3 separate regions of the Homo sapiens genome follow, and all the other regions are linked to region 2. Evidence: fine-mapped expression QTL. A gene starts in region 2. Each other region holds a variant in brackets. All regions are shown on one strand. Distances are from middle to middle. Region 1 has its middle 67 kb from the start of DAPK1. Region 2 holds the start of DAPK1 (death associated protein kinase 1). Region 3 overlaps DAPK1 (death associated protein kinase 1).

Evidence for each region. PIP is the estimated chance that this variant, and not a neighbour inherited with it, causes the effect.
Region 1: its variant is the best candidate, but not a certain one, in a credible set for the expression of DAPK1 in whole blood (INTERVAL, PIP 0.62).
Region 3: its variant is the best candidate, but not a certain one, in a credible set for the expression of DAPK1 in monocytes after LPS (Quach 2016, PIP 0.64).

The regions. Positions count from the first base shown.
Region 1 is chr9:87,428,005-87,434,555 of GRCh38, forward strand. No RefSeq gene overlaps it. Among named protein-coding and RNA genes, the nearest start is that of DAPK1, 67 kb to the right of the region's middle. The variant G/C (reference allele first, on the strand shown) is at 3,357.
Region 2 is chr9:87,494,958-87,501,508 of GRCh38, forward strand. It overlaps DAPK1 (death associated protein kinase 1), which reads left to right and starts at 2,910. Exons shown (of 26, transcript NM_004938.4): 1 at 2,910-3,150; 2 at 4,013-4,182. The coding sequence starts at 4,121. RefSeq lists silencers at 2,559-2,618, 2,639-2,988, 3,359-3,548, 3,759-3,868 and an enhancer at 3,259-4,016.
Region 3 is chr9:87,556,988-87,563,538 of GRCh38, forward strand. The region is part of intron 2 of DAPK1 (death associated protein kinase 1); the gene reads left to right. Among named protein-coding and RNA genes, the nearest start is that of DAPK1-IT1, 6.8 kb to the left of the region's middle. RefSeq lists enhancers at 2,772-2,941, 4,994-5,163 and a cis regulatory region at 5,079. The variant C/T (reference allele first, on the strand shown) is at 3,491.

The DNA of each region.
Region 1 (6,551 bases), 67 kb before region 2:
AGAGGCAACAGTCCTCTTCCTAATGGGATCTTTCCCATGACTCTGTTGAGGAACTGGAAAGTCCAGTTTCTGTGGTCAAGAGAGAAATCCTAATCATTGAGCACTAAAATGTGAGACCATAGAGGACCCTCACCGCTGATATTCGAAAGGCTGAAAATGCACTGTCTCAGCCTCCTCAGTGAAAGCAGACTCAGCAGATGAGTGTGTTCCTGTACCTTCCAGCTTTATGCTTTTCCTGTGGTTGACAGAAAGGAGCTGGAGTGGATTGGAGGAGAAGCTGAGATGGATTAGGAAACTACTTCCTTTTCTACAAGCTTACTTCAGGAATAGTCAATCAAGGCTCTTCAACGTGACTAAACATTGCGTTAAGCATCCTTTGGCTTGAAGACATCAGCTTTCTAAAATGAGGGCTATTAAGGCAAGTGGCTGTGTAGGGCCTCATGCATTATGAATTTGCTAGTCATGGATGAATACAAATTACCTTGCAATCAGGACACAGCTGGTAATTAGAAACAACTCTTCTTTTGATTCAATTAACCACCTGAAGAAATTAGGTTTTGATTTAGATTTGGGTTGGAATGCTGTAGTCCCCTTTAAAACAAGGAGAAAAATGGACAATTCTGAAGCGTAGAACATCTCTTCCAGATTTGCAACAGGGAAGTTCTCTCCATTATGGTTAAAAATCAATAAATTAAAAGAAAATGACCCACCATGTGTCATTGTTGTGAATAATTGCCATTGATCAGCTCAGGAGGGAGAATGGGGCAGAATAGCTTCCATTTCCGAAATCAGATCTTCCCCACAGTTGAGACAGCCTCCTGCTCTAACTGGTTTGACAAGAGGAGACTGACCTACGGTTGGGAAGCTGGCCAGTGATTACCCAGGGAGTAGGTAGCAGCTCAAAGGTGGAAACACAGAGGTCCTTATTTTCCAATCCACTGCACACTGCCTATAGCACACAACACCCACAGATGTGCAAAACGAAGGAGGAAATGTGTGACCTCTTCTGAACTGAATCTTGTTGTCCTCTCTGAGCTTAGGACTCTACTGAAATGCTAGATAGAAGCAGAATGTGTTCCCCCACCTCCACCCATGACAAGACAAGTGCTTTAATAAAATCTAAGAAATGTGGTCCACATCCCAGAAGAAAGGTGTTGCCTAGCAGCAGTGACCTTTAAAGAAAGGCCAGACAGACTTTTCCTAAAGGATTTTTAGGATATTGGGAGTCAAGTTTCCTGATGATTTATCTAAATATAGTACTGAGAATTTACCACCTGCATTATTGGAGGGAGCCTTTGAATACTCAGCCTCCAAAGATAAATATTAATAATAATGTCCAACACGTACTTGGTGCATTGTTTCACAAAGCATGGTACACATCCCTGTACAGATGCCACAGATGGTATGCAAAGTGATTTTAGGTACTATCTGATGAATATTTGTTATTTTATAGGTTATGTAATTGTTTTAAAATGTGTTTGAAAACGTAACCATTTCACCATTCATCAGATTGAATGAAGATAGACTGGGTGTGTGGGCTGAGGCAGGAGGATCACTTGAGCTCAGGAGTTCAAGGCTACAGTGAGCTATGATTGTACGATTGCAGCACTGCAATCTGGCCTGGGTGACAGAGCAAGACCCTGTCTCTCAAAGAAAATTTAAAAAATACAAAAAGAATAAACAGAGTTGATTAGGATGAAACTAAGTTTTAAGAAGTGATTTAAATAAACTCAGTTTTAATGTTTAACTAAAGAAGAGCCAGTTTTAAATATGGCTGACATTTTGCAAGGAATAATTTGGTGCTTGTTTTGTTCTAGGCACTTTGTACAGGATTGCAGTCTCTCCTTCATTCCTTGTTTTTCTGGAAACTCAGGCTAATCATATCTGTGAGTTGGTGAAATGGAACTTACTCGGGTTTTGTTTTTTTGTTTTTTTTGGTGTTTTTTTTGAGATGGAGTTTCACTCTTGTTGCCCAGGCTGGAGTGCAGTAGCGCAATCTCAGCTCACTGCAACCTCCACTTTCCAGGTTCAAGATATTCTCCTGCCTCAGCCTCCCAAGTAGCTGGAATTACAGGCATGTGCCACCATGCTCAGCTAATTTGTGTATTTTTAGTAGAGACAGGGTTTTGCCATGTTGACCAGGCTGGTCTCGAACTCCTGACCTCAGGTGATCCAACCACTTCGGCCTCCCAAAGTACTGGGATTATAGGCATGTGCCACGTGCCCGGCTAATTTTGTGTGTGTGTGTGTGTATATATATATATATATATATATACACAAAAATATATATATATATATATATATATATATATATATATATATATATATATATATACATATATTTTTTTTAGTAGAGACAGAGTTTCTCCATGTTGGTCAGGCTGGTCTCTAACTCTCGACCTCAGGTGATCCGCCCACCTTGGCTTCCCAAAGTGCTGGGATTACAGGCATGAGCCACCACGCCCGGCCTTGTTTTATTTTCTAAACACTTCACCCTTTGAATTAAATCCTCTTGGGATATGGAGTTTGCAGGATTACTGACAGACATATGAAATTCTCCTGCTTTAAACAGAAAGCTTTAGAATTATTTCAGGGTTGTGATAGATACCAATTCATGAAGACAGACAGTGTACATCTTTTCCCAACTCTGCATTCAGGGACAGTACATTGGTAGCTTGAAACTGGCCATCATGAGAGTATTTGCACCACAGATATTGGCAAATTCTATAAGTTAGGAACCAGTGGTGGTGGCATGGCCTGTAGTCCCAACTACTTGGGAGGCTGAGGTGGGAGAATCACTTGAGCCCAAAAGTTTGAGACCAGACTGGGCAACATAGCAATAATCCATCTCTTTAAAAAAAAAAAAGTGTTAAATTAGGGGTTGGTTTTTGCTTTTTCTGGAGAAAATATTTAACAACCCTGCTGTTAAGTATTTTACCAAATAAAGTTGTATTCAACCTGATCTTAAAGTCTACCTGCAACAGATTGCTAGGTCCCTACAGAACCAGAAACATCCACCTAACCATTAGCTATAAGTATGATAGCAGAAGAGTATTGCATGGGATAGGACCTTCATAAGGGGGCAGGATTTTAAAGTATCTCTTTATTTGTTTGTTTAAAATAATATTTATCCCTACCTTCCTTCCATTCATTCATTCATTCTTTTTAGTTCTTCAACTTTTCCTTCAAGCTCCAGGGTACATGTGCAGGATGTGCAGGTCTGTTACATAGGTAAACGTGTGCCATGGTGGTTTGCTGCACAGGTCATCCCATCACCTAGATGTTAAGCCCAGCATCCATTAGCTATTCTTCCTGATGCTCTCCCTCTCCTCACTCCATCCCCGAGAGGCCCCAGC[G/C]TGTGTTGTTCCCCACTATATGTCCGTGTGTCTTCTCATTCAGCTCCCACTTATAAGAGAGAACATGCGGTGTTTGGTTTTCTGTCAAAATATCTACTTTTGTTACATGGCTAAAAGTGAGCCATTGACTTTTTAAAGAGATGCCTGGCCAGTATATTTTTCAAATGCTACCAGAAAATCAATCTGTTCTCTACCCATTTATGCTACAAACCATTCTTAACACACTGTAACTAACTGAAATCTGATTCATAATAAACACCAGGCTAATATCAAAAGAGAAGAGAAGTGGAGATGTCACAAGAAGTCAATAAGCAAGCTAAAGATGGTGTGAAGGGGGAGGGGAATAATGTTGCTAGGCAACCATCCCTAGTAGTTAATTCACATGTGTAGATACGAGAGCCTTGTTTTCCTCAGCACCAGCTAGCCCCAGTGTTTCCCCACTACCTACTTTGATGTTTCTGTAACCTACCAGAAAGTATCTGTGGGGGTCCTTAAAGTCCAGGACCCAGGGGTCAGCCTGATTGGCTAACCCCTCTAGAGATTAGAACTTCAGAAGATGTGTAAGCATTCTGCTTCCCTTTTAGATTTATATTTGTGGCTTCCCACTTGACAAATACTACAATCTTGCATGCATAAGACTCATTACAGCAGGGCCGGCTAATTCCCCAGTGGACATTTCATCACTGATTTCGAGCACACACCATGGACTGATGGATTACACCTTCTGTGGCAAGGGTGATCAGATTGCATTGATTCCAAGCTGAGAAAGTCACAGTTCTCACTGGGCTTCACTATTGCAGGAAGTTGGCCACTGCACGGCCTCCACATTGTATGGCTCCAGGAAATATACTTTACATTGTTGTCTAGGCTAAAGATACACTGCACAGAAATTATCAATTCCCTCACAGATGAAGAAAGCAAGGGCCTTAGAGAAAGGTGACTTCAAGCTGTTTAACTCGCTAATAGCAGAACCAGGATTATACCTCAGGTCTCTGGGTCATAATCTTTCTAATACACTAAATTGCCTGCCATATGTTTTTATTTTATTTTATTTATGTATTCATTTATTTATTTTTGAGACAGAGTCTCACTGAAAATAGAAAAATTAGCCAGGCATGGTGGTGCATGCCTGTAATCCCAGCTACTCGGGATGCTGAGGCATGAGAATTGCTTGAATCCAGAAGGCGGAGTTTGCAGCGAGCCAAGATTGTGCCACTGCACAATTGTGCCTGGGCCACAGAACAAGACTCCATCTCAAAACAAAACAAAACAAAACAAAACAAAAAGGAAGAAGAAAATGGGCCAGGCACGTGACTCACACCTGTAGTCCCAACACTTTGGGAGGTCAGAGCAGGCAGATGGCTTGAGCCCAGGAGTTCAAGACCAGCTGGGGCTCAAGTCATCTGCCCACCATGTTTTACCATGTTTTTCTCTACAAAAAAACACAAAAATTAGCCAGACATGGCGGCATACACCTGCAGTCCAAGTTACTTGGGAGGCTGAGGTAGGAGGATTACCTGAGTCCAGGAGGTAGAGGCTGCAGTGAGCCATAGTCACACCACTGCACTCCGGCCTGGGCAACAGAGTGAGACCCTGTTGGAAGGAAGGAAGGAAGGAAGGAAGGAAGGAAGGAAGGAAGGAAGGAAGGAAGGAAGGAAGGAGGGAGAAGGCAAAGAAAGAGAAAGAAAGAAGGGGAAAGAAAGGAAGAAAGAAATGAAGGAAGGAAAGAAAGGAGGGGAGGGGAGGGGAAGGGAGGGGAGGAGGGGGAGGAGAGGGGAGGAGAGGGGGTCCACCCCAAGACTGAAGTCCCTCCCTGGATCCTTGGCTGTCCATTGCTGAGTCCTTCTCTAGAGGCCAGAGTTCCCTGCCCAGTTGGAGTCCTAGTTATTAAATAAAACCTTCTCTGGTACACTTCTGTGATTCAGAACTCCCTCAGACAAATAAATCCACCATGTCTTCCCTCTCGATCAGCCTCAATCAAAACCCAAAGTCCCGTGTTGAACCTGGAGTCTCCCCTCACTGTTAGCACCACACTGTATTGTGCTTCAACAATGTAAAACCTTGCTCTTCTCCTTCCTCCCAACACTTTTGGCAGCTCCTGGTCCACAAAGACTCCACTCATTATTGCCTCCACCTTCACGCCTTTCCCTGAGATTAATGCTCTCCTATGGCCCTCCCAAGTGAGGGTACTTTTTCTCCAACTCCCAGTGAAGGTCAGGGCACTGCCAGACAAGTTCTCCCTCACCATTCAAGTGAGACATAAAGATTCTCACACTATGAGCCCATTCTGCAAAGGTCATGCCCTCTCCAAATCTCCTTGTCCAAATCTTCAGATCTTTTTCTTTCTGAAACCCTGCTCATCTGGCCAGAACCACTGTCCAGAAATTGGAATAGAATCTTTTTCTTCAATCTGCTCTTCCAGGCCAAGTAGACAGAGATATACTATTCAAAGTTTTTCCCACTAGTCTCAGGTTGAAATTCTTTAATTGCTCACTTCTGGTGGAAGCTGGCATGTCAAGCCAAAACATCTGTGAATAGGATCAAGTTGGGTTTCTAGAAAATCTTTCGTCATAGGGAGCCATTCATACAGTCACAAGTGCAGACTAAAGAAAAGTAAAATGTGTGGCAGGAGAAGGTATATGGGGAGTGTGAACCATGTAGTCATGCAAACACTATTTGTATCAGGGCTGGCTTAGACCTAATCCTATAACTACTTCTTATGCTTGATGACTGAAGGCCTGACTTCATGGCTGAATGGATCAGACAGTATCCAGTTCATGATCATTCATTTAAGTAAATCCCAGTAGCAAGTCAGGAGCTGTTTCTTAAAGGAGAATAGTTACTTGTTTAAGAGAACATAACATTGGTCTATAATATTTAAGGTCTCTGTTGTAATTTGCCTGTCTGGACTTGCCAAGCTTCATATACACTCCAGGTACTCCAGGAACTATTGAATATTCTGAGCCAAAAGACAAAAGTAGAATCAAGCCCAACGGAGAGTCGTATCTTATTCTGGGCTCCATTCAAAGCTGCCAACAACTTTGGGATTCACTTGGTAAATTGGTCCAAATAGGACACCCATGGTGAAGAAGCTTCACGATGCGCCACACCTCTTTTTTTAGTAGTAAGAAACACAGTGTTCAGCAACATGTGTTTCCTATTGAAAAAGATAATAACTTAATAATCATCAAACCA
Region 2 (6,551 bases):
CTCACAGAACTTGAACTGGAAGATATAAACAACTGGGAGTGAGGGTGGGGCTGGACAGCTGGCTTCTCTGGGCATCTCTCGTTCTTTCTGTGGTTTTGTCACATGTCTCTACATGGCAGCCCTAGGGTAATCATGACAGCTGAAGGCTTTAGAGTGGGTGGAGGGGGAGAGGGAGGGAGGGAAAGAGAGAGAGAGAGAGAGAGAGAGAAAGAGAAGCAAGCAGGCAGAAGCTCTAATGCCTTATGACCTAACCTTGGAAATAAATTACACTGTGCCACTGCCACTACCTTTTCTTAGAAGCAAGCAGATAGGGTTGGTGAATATTTATTGAGAGGGGAATTAGACTCCACCTCTTGATTGGGGGAGTGTCAAAGAATTTGTGAATATGTTTTTAAATGACCACATTTCCCCTTTCTAAAATGCTTGTCTAAATTGGTGTACACAAAAAGCTCGGGGGTTAGTGACTCATCCAAGGTTATTAAGCTGTTAAATGGTTCCACCAATACTAGATCTAATTTTGTGACTCCAAATTTCATGCTCTTTTTCACTACTCCAGATAATCTCCGGTGAACATCATTGTCCATTAGGGTAGTTAAGACATTCTAGCTGCCAAATAGATTCAGTCCTTTTAATTGCCTCGGACAATATATTTTTTATTTTGCAGAAAATAAATATTACCCATATGGCAGTCATCCATAAACACCTTCCAAGTTTATCCCAAACATCTGTGTTTTAAATTTTTTCTCCCAACAGATGTATTCATTTGCATTTTCCCAGATGAATCACTCTTTTTTTGTTGTTGTTGTTATTTTTGACTGTATTTCTCACCTCTCAAGACCCTTTTGTATTATCAAGCCCACTGCTTAAGCTAATACCATCTCCCAATTTGGGGACTTCCCCTTGATTCCTGTGTGCCCTTCCTGTGGGTCATTAATGCAATGTTATTTAAGACTAGGATTTGGCTGGGCGCAGTGGCTCACGCCTGTAATCCCAGCACTGTGGGAGGCCGAGCCGGGAGGATCACCTGAGGTCAGGAGTTCAAGACCAGCCTGACCAACATGGTGAAACCACGTCTCTACTAAAAATACAAAATTAGCCGGGCATAGTCACATGCCTGTAATCCCAGCTACTGGGTAGCCTGAGGCAGGAGAATCGCTTGAACCCGGGAGGCGGAGGCGGAGTTTGCAGTGAGCCAAGATTTCACAACTGCACTCCAGTCTGGGCCACAAGAGCGAAAACCCGTCTCAAAAAAAAAAAAAAGACTAGGATTTGACATAAGGCCTGAGGGGTATTCTTTTGTTTTGTTTTGCCTTGTTTTCAAGAGGCCAAAATCTTCACAGTTGAAAATTTCTGTTGAACCACAGAGATTTGAACCAACTCAGTTTAGAAAGCCTGGGGATTTGAACAACGGTATGGATCGGAAATCTCTTCATCTGTCAGTTTTCATCATTCTAGGCAGTAAAATAGATTTCCCTTTAGGAGCTTTTCACCGTTTGGGGTTCTCCAGCAGTGGGATGTGGGGAATCAACCCTTCTTCGTCTCCACCCAAACATTAGGTGGGAGCAAGGGGTGGGAAGTAGAGAAAGTGGATAGAGGTCTCCAGTGGATATGGGATCTTTGTGTAGACCAGCACAGTCCTCAGAAATCTCATGCAAGCAACATAGGTACTGTTATATTTTCTAGTGGCCACCTTTTAAAAAGTAAACAGGTGAGGCCGGGCGCGGTGGCTCACGCCTGTAATCCCAGCACTTTGGGAGGCCCAGGCGGGCGGATCACGAGGTCAAGAGATGGAGACCATCCTGGTCGACACGGTGAAACCCCGTCTCTACTAAAAATACAAAAATTAGCTGGGCATGGTGACGCGCGACTGTAGTCCTAGCTACTGGGGAGGCCGAGGCAGGAGAATCACTTGAACCCTGGAGGTGGAGGTTGCCACGCTCCACTACACTCCAGCCTGGCGACAGAGTGAGACTCCGTCTCAAAAAAAAGAAAGTAAACAGGTGAAATTAATTTTAATAATATATTTTGTTTAACCCAACGTATCCAAAATACTATCATTTGAAAGTGTAATGAATATAAAAATATTCATGAGATATTTTTCATTCTCATATCCATACTGTCTTGGACTCTAATGTGTATTTTACACTTACAGCACAATTAATTTGGGACTAGCTACATTTCAGCTCAACAATAGCCAATAGCATATGGGATAGCGCAAATAAACTCTGCGTCTCTGTTGCTTCTTTGGGTCTCGGAGACCTCAACCCTTTCTTCAGATTGCAAACCTTCTTGCCTTCAAGCCTCGGCTCCAACACCAGTCCGGCAGAGGAACCCAGTCTAATGAGGTACGCTCCCTTCCTGCCATTCTCTATTCCATTAACCTGTTTCGTGGTAAACGTAGGACTGATCCTCCAAAATTACCTTATTAATTAGCTTACATATTTATTATCTATCTGTCCCACCAGAATGCAGGTTTCCGGAAGGCAGGGATTTAAAAAAATCTGTTTTGTTCTATGTGATTTTCCCATACCAAGCACCGTGCCCGGCACAAGCTGGGATCCCAGTACACATCTCGGGACGGAAGAACCGTGTTTCCCTAGAACCCAGTCAGAGGGCAGCTTAGCAATGTGTCACAGGTGGGGCGCCCGCGTTCCGGGCGGACGCACTGGCTCCCCGGCCGGCGTGGGTGTGGGGCGAGTGGGTGTGTGCGGGGTGTGCGCGGTAGAGCGCGCCAGCGAGCCCGGAGCGCGGAGCTGGGAGGAGCAGCGAGCGCCGCGCAGAACCCGCAGCGCCGGCCTGGCAGGGCAGCTCGGAGGTGGGTGGGCCGCGCCGCCAGCCCGCTTGCAGGGTCCCCATTGGCCGCCTGCCGGCCGCCCTCCGCCCAAAAGGCGGCAAGGAGCCGAGAGGCTGCTTCGGAGTGTGAGGAGGACAGCCGGACCGAGCCAACGCCGGGGACTTTGTTCCCTCCGCGGAGGGGACTCGGCAACTCGCAGCGGCAGGGTCTGGGGCCGGCGCCTGGGAGGGATCTGCGCCCCCCACTCACTCCCTAGCTGTGTTCCCGCCGCCGCCCCGGCTAGTCTCCGGCGCTGGCGCCTATGGTCGGCCTCCGACAGCGCTCCGGAGGGACCGGGGGAGCTCCCAGGCGCCCGGGTGAGTAGCCAGGCGCGGCTCCCCGGTCCCCCCGACCCCCGGCGCCAGCTTTTGCTTTCCCAGCCAGGGCGCGGTGGGGTTTGTCCGGGCAGTGCCTCGAGCAACTGGGAAGGCCAAGGCGGAGGGAAACTTGGCTTCGGGGAGAAGTGCGATCGCAGCCGGGAGGCTTCCCCAGCCCCGCGGGCCGGGTGAGAACAGGTGGCGCCGGCCCGACCAGGCGCTTTGTGTCGGGGCGCGAGGATCTGGAGCGAACTGCTGCGCCTCGGTGGGCCGCTCCCTTCCCTCCCTTGCTCCCCCGGGCGGCCGCACGCCGGGTCGGCCGGGTAACGGAGAGGGAGTCGCCAGGAATGTGGCTCTGGGGACTGCCTCGCTCGGGGAAGGGGAGAGGGTGGCCACGGTGTTAGGAGAGGCGCGGGAGCCGAGAGGTGGCGCGGGGGTGCCACCGTTGCCGCAGGCTGGAGAGAGATTGCTCCCAGTGAGGCGCGTACCGTCTGGGCGAGGGCTTCATTCTTCCGCGGCGTCCCTGGAGGTGGGAAAGCTGGGTGGGCATGTGTGCAGAGAAAGGGGAGGCGGGGAGGCCAGTCACTTCCGGAGCCGGTTCTGATCCCAACAGACCGCCCAGCGTTTGGGGACGCCGACCTCGGGGTGCCGTGGTGCCCGGCCCCACGCGCGCGCGGGGCTGAGGGGTCGGGGGCGTCCCTGGCCGCCCAGCTTTAACAAAGGGTGCTCCTCTCCACCCCGCGAGGAGGGGCAGCTCCGGAGACCCGGTCTTCAGCGAGCGGGGTCTTAGCGCCGGGGAGGTCTACTTCCTTTTGGGGTTGCCATTTTACTATTATTATTGCCTTTTTTTTTTCTTCAAAAGGACTGGAGACTGATGCATGAGGGGGCTACGGAGGCGCAGGAGCGGTGGTGATGGTCTGGGAAGCGGAGCTGAAGTGCCCTGGGCTTTGGTGAGGCGTGACAGTTTATCATGACCGTGTTCAGGCAGGAAAACGTGGATGATTACTACGACACCGGCGAGGAACTTGGCAGGTAAAGGGGGTACCAGAAGCGTACCCTCCTGGATTGTGGAAATGCATAACGATGGGGCCATTGGGTGGTAAACAAATGCAGTTTGAATCAGGCGTCTCCCTCGCCCTTTCTGGAGATGCGCAAATCATAGAGAAAAGAGTTACTAACCCAGCGGTAAACCGCCTGATCCAAGGGCCTGGGGGTGGAGGAGAGGCAGCAGTTCAGGGCTAGATTATGATGCACAGTATATTGATCCAGTCCCCTGGACAAAATCAGATTTAATTGTCCGTGCTAACTCTTGTCAGCCCTTGCCCTTCTGTGACAACAGGACAAACACTAAGATTATAATTGCAATTGGAGTTAGCTTTTATGTGTGATTTAAACGGAGGGTACAAACTAATTAATAGGTTTTAAAAATCTTAGTACTTTACCCTCTATCTAAATTTTCAGTGTAATTTGAGCAAGTATTGGTAGGTGGTAAATGGAGACTTGCCAGATGTTGACATTGGGCTTGGATTTTGAAACTTCTTCCAACCAGGAATTTAATTACCTGGTTGGTGTTGGTGGTTGCTTTGGTTTCATTTACAATGTTAAATTTTTAACAAATCAATGAGAGTCTAATATGGCTATCTGGATTCAGAGCATACCTCCATTGCTGTAGCAGCTGTGATTCTCAGTGTAAAATCTTTCAGTTTCTAGGTAAACAAAGAATAGTTTCTTTCGGGGCATCTAAGGGCTGATTGCTGTTTCCTTTGACTGTGTATTAGACAGAGTGTTTTGGGCTCTGGTCAACTTTAGTAGAAAACCTAGTTTTCATACATACATTTAAAACTGAATTTATGGAATTTGACTGTGGTGTATTTACATTGTGAGTGGAGTAGGCAAAAGGATCTTTAAACAAACAAAATATGTATTTACTTATATGTGCATTGAAATATGTATTTTCCCATATACATCTGATGTCCTGATACAAAGCTTCCTTTTTCTCCATGAAAAGGAAATTAAAAAACACCCACATCCTGGATTGCCTAATGAGAATTATGGAAACTAAGCTTAACTAAATTTTTTTAAAAATTCAAATGATAGTGTAGAATTTTTTTAAAAGTTACTGTAACAGAGTATTTCTCTAAATATTTAGTATCGACTGAAAACATAGATGGGGGCCTGTGCTTAGGAAGAGCTCTCTGTATATTGATGATCTGGTGAGTAAATAAGGAAAGCTCTTCAAACATCACATTTCATGGATATGTTTAAGATTAAAGTTTAAGAGTGTGTGGGTGAAATATTTGGTTTAACTGGAATTAAATAACTTTACTGTGGTTTTCAGCAAGATGAGTGGTATTTGGAGTTTTCCTTTGGGACTGGAAGAAAAAAGCAAAAAAATAAATTTTAATTTGATTTGCATAGTGTGGCCTGATCGTTTAAGTGTTGTTAGAAAGAGAGATGACTAAAATTAGTTGAGATTATTATATTATGGATTAAGTATATTGACCTTATTTTCATTATGATTTTTTGGTACCATTATGTGTTATGAGAAAGAAATAGAAAAAGAGGCCTCCCTGTGGTTGGCGAAGGGAGTTTTTGATCTTTATTTCGTGGGCGTGATGATGAGGGGAGGGAGGTGGCTTACTTATTTGTCACTAGCACTTTGATTTGCTCAGTGTACATTTTTGTGTATAACGTTCTCCCCACTGTGCAAGGCAAATTGACAAATTGTTTATTAAATAATTTGTGTGACCTAGGAATTTTAAAGAAATGCTCTGAAAAACTGGAAGTCTGAAGTTTTTAAAAATGAAATGTACAGACTCATCTATCTTGTATAACTGCTATTGTTTTTGCCAAAAAATGAGTGAATGATTGTTTTTTGGAAAATTTTTCAAGTCCTGATTTTATGTCTGCCTTGGATGTAGCCACTTCCTGAAAACAAGTCCTAATGTAAAATGGACATGTAGGAAGATGCTGCTTATATGACATCACGTGTCACTGAGGGAAGATTGGGAGTGGAGGCAGGAGTTTGGTGGCAGGAAAATGGAAATGGGCAGATATGTGGCACAAATGCAAGGTCATTCTAAGCAGTGAATTACTAGTAGACCAGTATCTAAGATTTAAGACTTTACTTGGCCAGGCGAGGTGGCTCACACCTGTAATCCCAGCACTTTTGGGAGGCTGAGGTAGGCAAATCACGAGGTCAGGAGTTCAAGACCAGCCTGGCTAACATAGTGAAACCCTGTCTCTACTAAAAATACAAAAAAAATTATCTAAGATTTAAGACTTTAATTGGCCAGGCGCAGTGGCGCGCGCCTGTAGTCCCAGCTATTTGGGAGGCTGAGGCATGAGAATCGCCTGAACCTGGGAGGCGGAGGTTGCAGTGAATGGAGATCGCGCCACTG
Region 3 (6,551 bases), 62 kb after region 2:
GTTGACCTTCGGCTTTCCCCTTGGCCTCTAGGGATTCATATCTCATAAAGAACAGAAAAGAGGAAGGCAGCCTGGCCCTTCCCCTCACCCTTCCCTCTTGGCGGTGTTGCGGGAAGGGAGGAGCAACTCTTCCTCAACATCCTCGAAGCTCAGTGTCTGGCATTGTAAGGCCAGTGGTTTTCAAACCTCTGGGCTCAGAACCTTTGTTCAAAGCAAGTGTTACCTGGCAGCCACACATCCATCCAGGCAGCCCCATGAGGAATGCTCAGATCCATCTGAGAAGAGTCTGGAAACCCACATCTTCATTTCCCACCATGGCCCTGTCAGGGGAGACCCTTTGTCCTGTACCTTCCTGTCGTGTTCTTTCTACGTTTCACCCACTGCCTTCCTCGTCCTTCCAAATTAGATTATTAATCTCATGAAGAAAATACAGCTTTCTTCCTGTGATTCAAAACATCTTTTGTGAGCTCTAAAACCATGCCGATTAAGGAATTATGAATTTAAAATAATATTAAATGGTCAGTAGCTTTTATTGACAAATGATCTTGGGACAAAGCCATTAGATTTTTTTTCTATCTCTTACAGAACCCCCCTCCTGTTAAAACATTACTCATTGAGAAGTGATCCATTAAAAGAAAAATGTGTTGGATTTTAAAAAATACCTAATCCTTGGCAGGGCGCGGTAGCTTATGCTTATAATCACAGCACTTTGGGAGGCCAAGGTGGGTGGATCACTTGAGGTCAGGAGTTCGAGAACAGCCTGGCCAACATGGTGAAACCTCGTCTTTACTAAAATTACATAAATTAGCTCGGTGTGGTGGCATGCACCTGTAGTCCCAGCTACTTGAGAGGCTGAGGCTTGAGAATCACCTGAACCTGGGAGGCGGAGGTTGCAGTGAGCTGAGATGATGACATTGCACTCCAGCCTGGGTGACAGAGTGAGACTCCGTCTGAAGACAAACAAACAAAAAACAAAAACCGAATCCTTTAGCCAGGCGTGTCTCTTGTTGGATAAGTCAGTTTGGAATCTTTTGGATGTTTTCCTTCTTTTACTTGCTCAGCCATAATAAATCTTTCATTTTAATTTTGATCAGCAGCATTGTGAGGTCCTGCCCAGTGTGGTAATGGGCAGTTAGCTTGTCACAGTCCTGTCATCTTGCCAGCCCCTTGAGAGCTGCCAGAAGCTTGTGGTCTGTCTGGTTTCACATGGTGGTCATGGACTCTCTTAGGGACTCACATGTTACTGCACAGTGGGTATGCATCTTGGCCTGTCAGCACCTCTCCCTGAAGCATCCCAGGAGCTATTTACCAAAATGGATCATGCTCTTTTGTCAAGAGCAGGCCACTGGACTGCATTGCACCCCTGAGGATATACCCACAGATCAACGGGACAGAATAAATAAAGCAAGATGAAAAAGAATGAAGGGATCTAGTCGAATAAGCTTTGCAACTAAAAATCTTCCATGAATACAGGATCTCAGAATCACTTGATAATATGCTCCACATACATAAGTACACATATGCACACACACACAGCCGTGTGAGTACAGATACACAAGCTGTAAGGTGGTCATTGCACACCAACGTCCCTTTCGACGAAAACGAACAATTCCTCGATACTAGCTGGTCTCTTGGTTTCTGCTGTTTGTGACTTGTCATTGCAGGGAAGGGCTGTGATGGAGGGAGTTTTTGTTGACTTGGTAGTTCCTGTCTGCAGACCCCTTCATTGCTTCATTGGATTCCTTGGACAGCCTGCTATAGCCACATGGGGGCTCAGTTAGAGCCTGCTCTGTGAGCTGCATCTACCCATTTGGGCTCCCACGTGCAGAAAGCATGATTCCCATGCTCCATGTGGGCGGACTCCTGTTAGGCAGGTGGGAAAGGAGAAACCAGACTGCCTGGAACCTGCCCACAGGGCCTCTACCCAGTGGGGCATCAGGGAGGTACCACCCATTCCAGTCACTTGTTGAAAACTGTTCCCACTCTGGGGGAGGGGAGGGTAAGTCATGGTCTCTCTCTGTAAGAAATCACAGGTGCATGTGTGTGCACATGCATGCACCAGCTATCTCCTCCTTCTCCCCAACAAAATGACAGTTGGCATTCGTAGAGCCTGTACTCTGAGACGGGGATTTTGTGCTTGACGTGTATTATCTAATTTAATCTACTTAACCCTATAAGTTAGATGAAATATTATCCTTGTTTTACAAATGAAGAAATTAAGGTAGAGGTAATGTGTCATCTCTAGTACTCTAGAGTTTCTAATGCCCCAGGTATGCTTCTTTTTATTACAGGATAGGCTAGGGTAGGCTAGGGTAGGCTAGGCTAGGGTAGGGTAGGGCAGGGCAGGGTAGTGTAGGGTAGGGTAGCATCTACACCAATGCTGTGCATAGACCTTTCTGCAATTATGGGAATGTTCTGTGCCGCCCAGTGTGGTAACATCTAGCCACATGTGACTGTTGAGCATGTGAAATGGGACTAGTGTTTCCAAAAAGGTAAATTTTTAATATTCTTTAATTTTAGTTAAATTTCACTAGCACCGTGACTAGTAGCTACTGTGGTGGACTTTCCCTGCAGCTGAGGGCCCTCCCAGGACGCTCTCAAAAGCAGGATGTAGGACGCCTTGGACTTGATTAGCACTGTTTGATCATTGATTGATTTGAAAGATCTTTGCTGAGCCCCTCCTAGGTACTAAGCAGCTCAGGCTGTGAGAATGTCTGAACTCCAAGAATTGCTGCATGGTTCTTTTTGAACTGAGACCAGTGAGCAGGCGAATGTCTACAATAGTCCCGGGTGTTGGAAAGGACTCTGGTGTGGACCTTTGATGCCTGCTGCCCCAGTGAGTGACCCAGTGTCACCAGACTCGTGTGCCCACTCCTCAGAAAGGCCCCCATTCTTCATGCCCCCTATCTTGCCCTTCCTCTGCCTCCATCCGCTTCTTTTGTCTCCCCACCTTGGTTTATGAAGTCTCCTCTCTCCTCTTCCCTCCTCTGCCCTTGAATCTTTTTCTTTCCTTTTTTCTTTTTTTGTTTTTTTTTGAGACGGAGTCTTGCTCTGTCGCCCAGGCTCGATCTTGGCTCACTGCAACCTCCTCCTCCCGGGTTCAAGCTATTCTCCTGCCTCAGCCTCCCTAGTAGCTGAGATTACAGGTGCATGCCACCACGCCTGGCTAATTTTTGTATTTTTTTTTTAGTAGAGACGGGGTTTCGCCATGTTGACCAGGGTGGTCTAGAATTCCTGACCTCAAGTGATCTGCCTGCCTTGGCCTCCCAAAGTACTGAGATTACAGGTGTGAGTCACCATGCCCAGCCTGCCCTTGGAACTTTAAAATTTATTTGAAAGTTTATTTTAATATGTGGTTACAATCACATAACATTACATTTACCATTTAAACATTTTAAAGCGTGCAACTGAGTTGTGTCAGCTATATCACATTGTTGCGTGACACTTCCCCAGAACTTTCTCATCTTGCAAAACTGAAATTTCGTGCCTA[C/T]TAAACACAAACTCCCCCTTCCCCTACCCCTTGGCAGATATGAGTCTACTTTCTGTTTCTGTGATTTGGACTACTTTAGATACCTCACATGAGTAGAATCACACAATATTTGTGCTTTTGTGACCTGCTTATTTCACTTAGCATGATGTCCTTGAGGTTCATCCACGTTGAGGCATGTGTCAGAACGTACTTTTTTTTTTTTTTTTTTGAGACAGTCTTGCTCTGTCACCCAGGCTGGAGTGCAGTGGCATGATCTCCACTCACTGTAACCTCCACCTTATAGGATCAAGCAATTCTCCTACCTCAGCCTCCCGAGTAGCTAAGATTATAGGCACCCACCACCACGCCCGGCTAACTTTTGTATTTTTAGTAGAGACGGAGTTTCACCGTGTTGGCCAGGCTGGTCTTGAACTCCTGACCTCAGGTGATCCACCCACCTCGGCCTCACAAAGTGTTGGGATTACCAGTGTGAGCCACCGCGCCTGGCTAGGATGTGCTTCCTTTTTAAAGGCTGCATTCTATTCCATTATGTGTATAAATCTCATGTCATGTAGTCATTCATCCATCAGTGGACATTTGAGTGCCCTTGTCTTTTACTTTTTTGTCCTTTCCCTTCATTTTCCCCAAAATAAAATATGAAATTAAAATAGCGGAACCAATAATATATTAGATGAGGAGCCGTTTGTGCTTATTTCCTATCTTTTGGGCAGCAAGAGTTGAGCCTTTATGCCCTCCCCAATCATTGCTACAAAATACACCAAATATGTGGCCGGGCGTAGTGGCTCACGCTTGTAATCCCAGCACTTTGGGAGGCCAAGGCGGGCGGATCACGAGGTCAGGAGATCGAGACCAGCCTGGCTAACACGGTGAAACCTCGTCTCTCCTAAAAATACAAAAAATTAGCCGGGCGTTGTGGCGGGCGCCTGTGGTCCCAGCTACTCGGGAGGCTGAGGCAGGAGAATGGCGTGAACCCGGGAGGCGGAGCTTACAGTGAGCCGAGATGGCACCACTGCACTCCAGCCTGGGCGACAGAGCGAGACTCCGTCTCAAAAGAAAAAAAAAATACACCAAATATGTTAGCCAGAGTGAATTTCTATTCTAATGAAACCTTTCATTGATTTTTTATTTCTCTGGGTCATTAACTTCCCATTGAATAAAGAAATTCCCCAGACCTGCCCTGGGGGATTCCCCTGCTCCATGGAAGTTTGATAGGCATTGCATTTGGGTGCTAGAAATGGAAGCCCCTTAGACAGCAGTTTACTTAAGTTAAAGGTTCATTTTCTTCTCATCCAGAAGTGGGGCTGTGTGTGGACAGTGCTTATCTGGCAGCTCCTCAGTGCCATTGGAGACCCAGGCTCCCTGGGTTCTGCCCCCCTCCTTAGGGTGTCAACCAGAGCTGCATCCACCATGCCCAGGGTTCAAGCAAGGAGAAGGGAAGGGAAGCAAAAGGGGGTGCACTCCAGCTTTACTGGCCCCCTGAATGGGCATCCCTGTGAGCTGCCTGCAAGGGGCTCTGCACACTTCTCATCATCCAGACTGGGCCACAGGGACCCTCACTCCACCCCAGAGCATGGAGAAGAGATGCATCGCTGCCCTGAGTAATGTGGGGATTCTCATGGGGAGAGGGAAGGGGGTTGTGCAGGGCAGGCCTCCTGCAGTTCTGTATCTACCTGGTGGTCTTCAGTGTTTACCTTCTTGGGGTTCAGGTGATGGAACGAAGACACAGCAGTTGAGCTATATGTTCATCATAGTTATACTGAGTTAGGATGGGCAAAGTCATGCCACTGTAACAAACAACCCCAATAGCGAACGTGAGTTAGTTGGAGCCTTGTCCTCCTGTGTCGTAACTCCAGGACTGAAGGTAATGAAGCCTCCACTGTGTGGAAAGTTGCAATCACATTGGTGAGGAAGAGGCTGTCACAAATTAAGGACTGGGTCTTGAGGCTTTCGTCGGGAACCAACAGGAGGAGTTGAGCCCACTTTCATTGGCCAGAAGTCACATGGCCACACTCAATGTGAAAGCATGGGTGTGTCCTCCTACCTCATGCTGAAAGGAGAGGACCCTGAAATATTTGATGACTGTCACTGCCACAGTAGTTATTTAAATAGAGAATTCTATAATATTTTTATAGAAAAGAGTATTAGGAATTGAGTCATTTGCTATCTCAAAGGCTCTACATTATTTACACCTGAAAGAAGTTGAGATTGTCCATGTAACCACCTGACATACTGTTTTGCTTAATTTAAAGCACACTGTCCAGAAGGAAATAAATAAACCTTGCCAAGTGTAATTCATCAAATAATAGCATGTCAGGTGCCCAAATTTGGAAGACAGATTGAAGCAAAAGTCTGCTGCTATTGCAGAGCAAAGACAATTTGCTTTATATTAAACTTAAGGAATGATTTAAAGAGGATTCTTCCCAGGCATGATGACTTGCTCAGCTTTTTTATAGAACCTCAAACAAGTGCTGACCTCTTAAACTTTTTTACTTTCTTCATGACAAATGATGTGATTTGGAGTGAAGGTTGGACAATGGAAGGAGGGTGATGATCCGCCTAGAGATTTGGTACTGGTGAATTTCAGGGGCAGATCTTGGGCCCCTCTTTGTGAAATGCTCATGTTTCTATTCTGTTGTCTGGAAGCATTTTGTAAGCAAAAGAGACTTTTTGTTCTTTATTAACTGTACCTTCCGGCATTCTTTCCTGGTAAACTCCAATTTCTAAGTTTATAAGTACATGCATTTGTCAGAATTTAGTCAACCAATCCACACAAATTTATTAAACACATACTGTATGAGGAAGAATATGGGAGTAGCAATTGAGGGCACAAAGATGAATATGATTTTTAAGCTCCTTGAATGCTTTTGAATTTAAGTGGTTCACACTCCCATTTGAAAGATACAGTGTGAACACCTGCACTAACACTATTTATTTCCACTCTGGGATGGGTTGTAGTGTTCATGGTCTCAGAGAACTGTGCCTCCCTGTTGCATCTTGGCTTGACTCCCCGTATTCCCTGAATTGGGGCTGGCCTTGTGGCTTGCTCTGCCCAGCAGAGTCT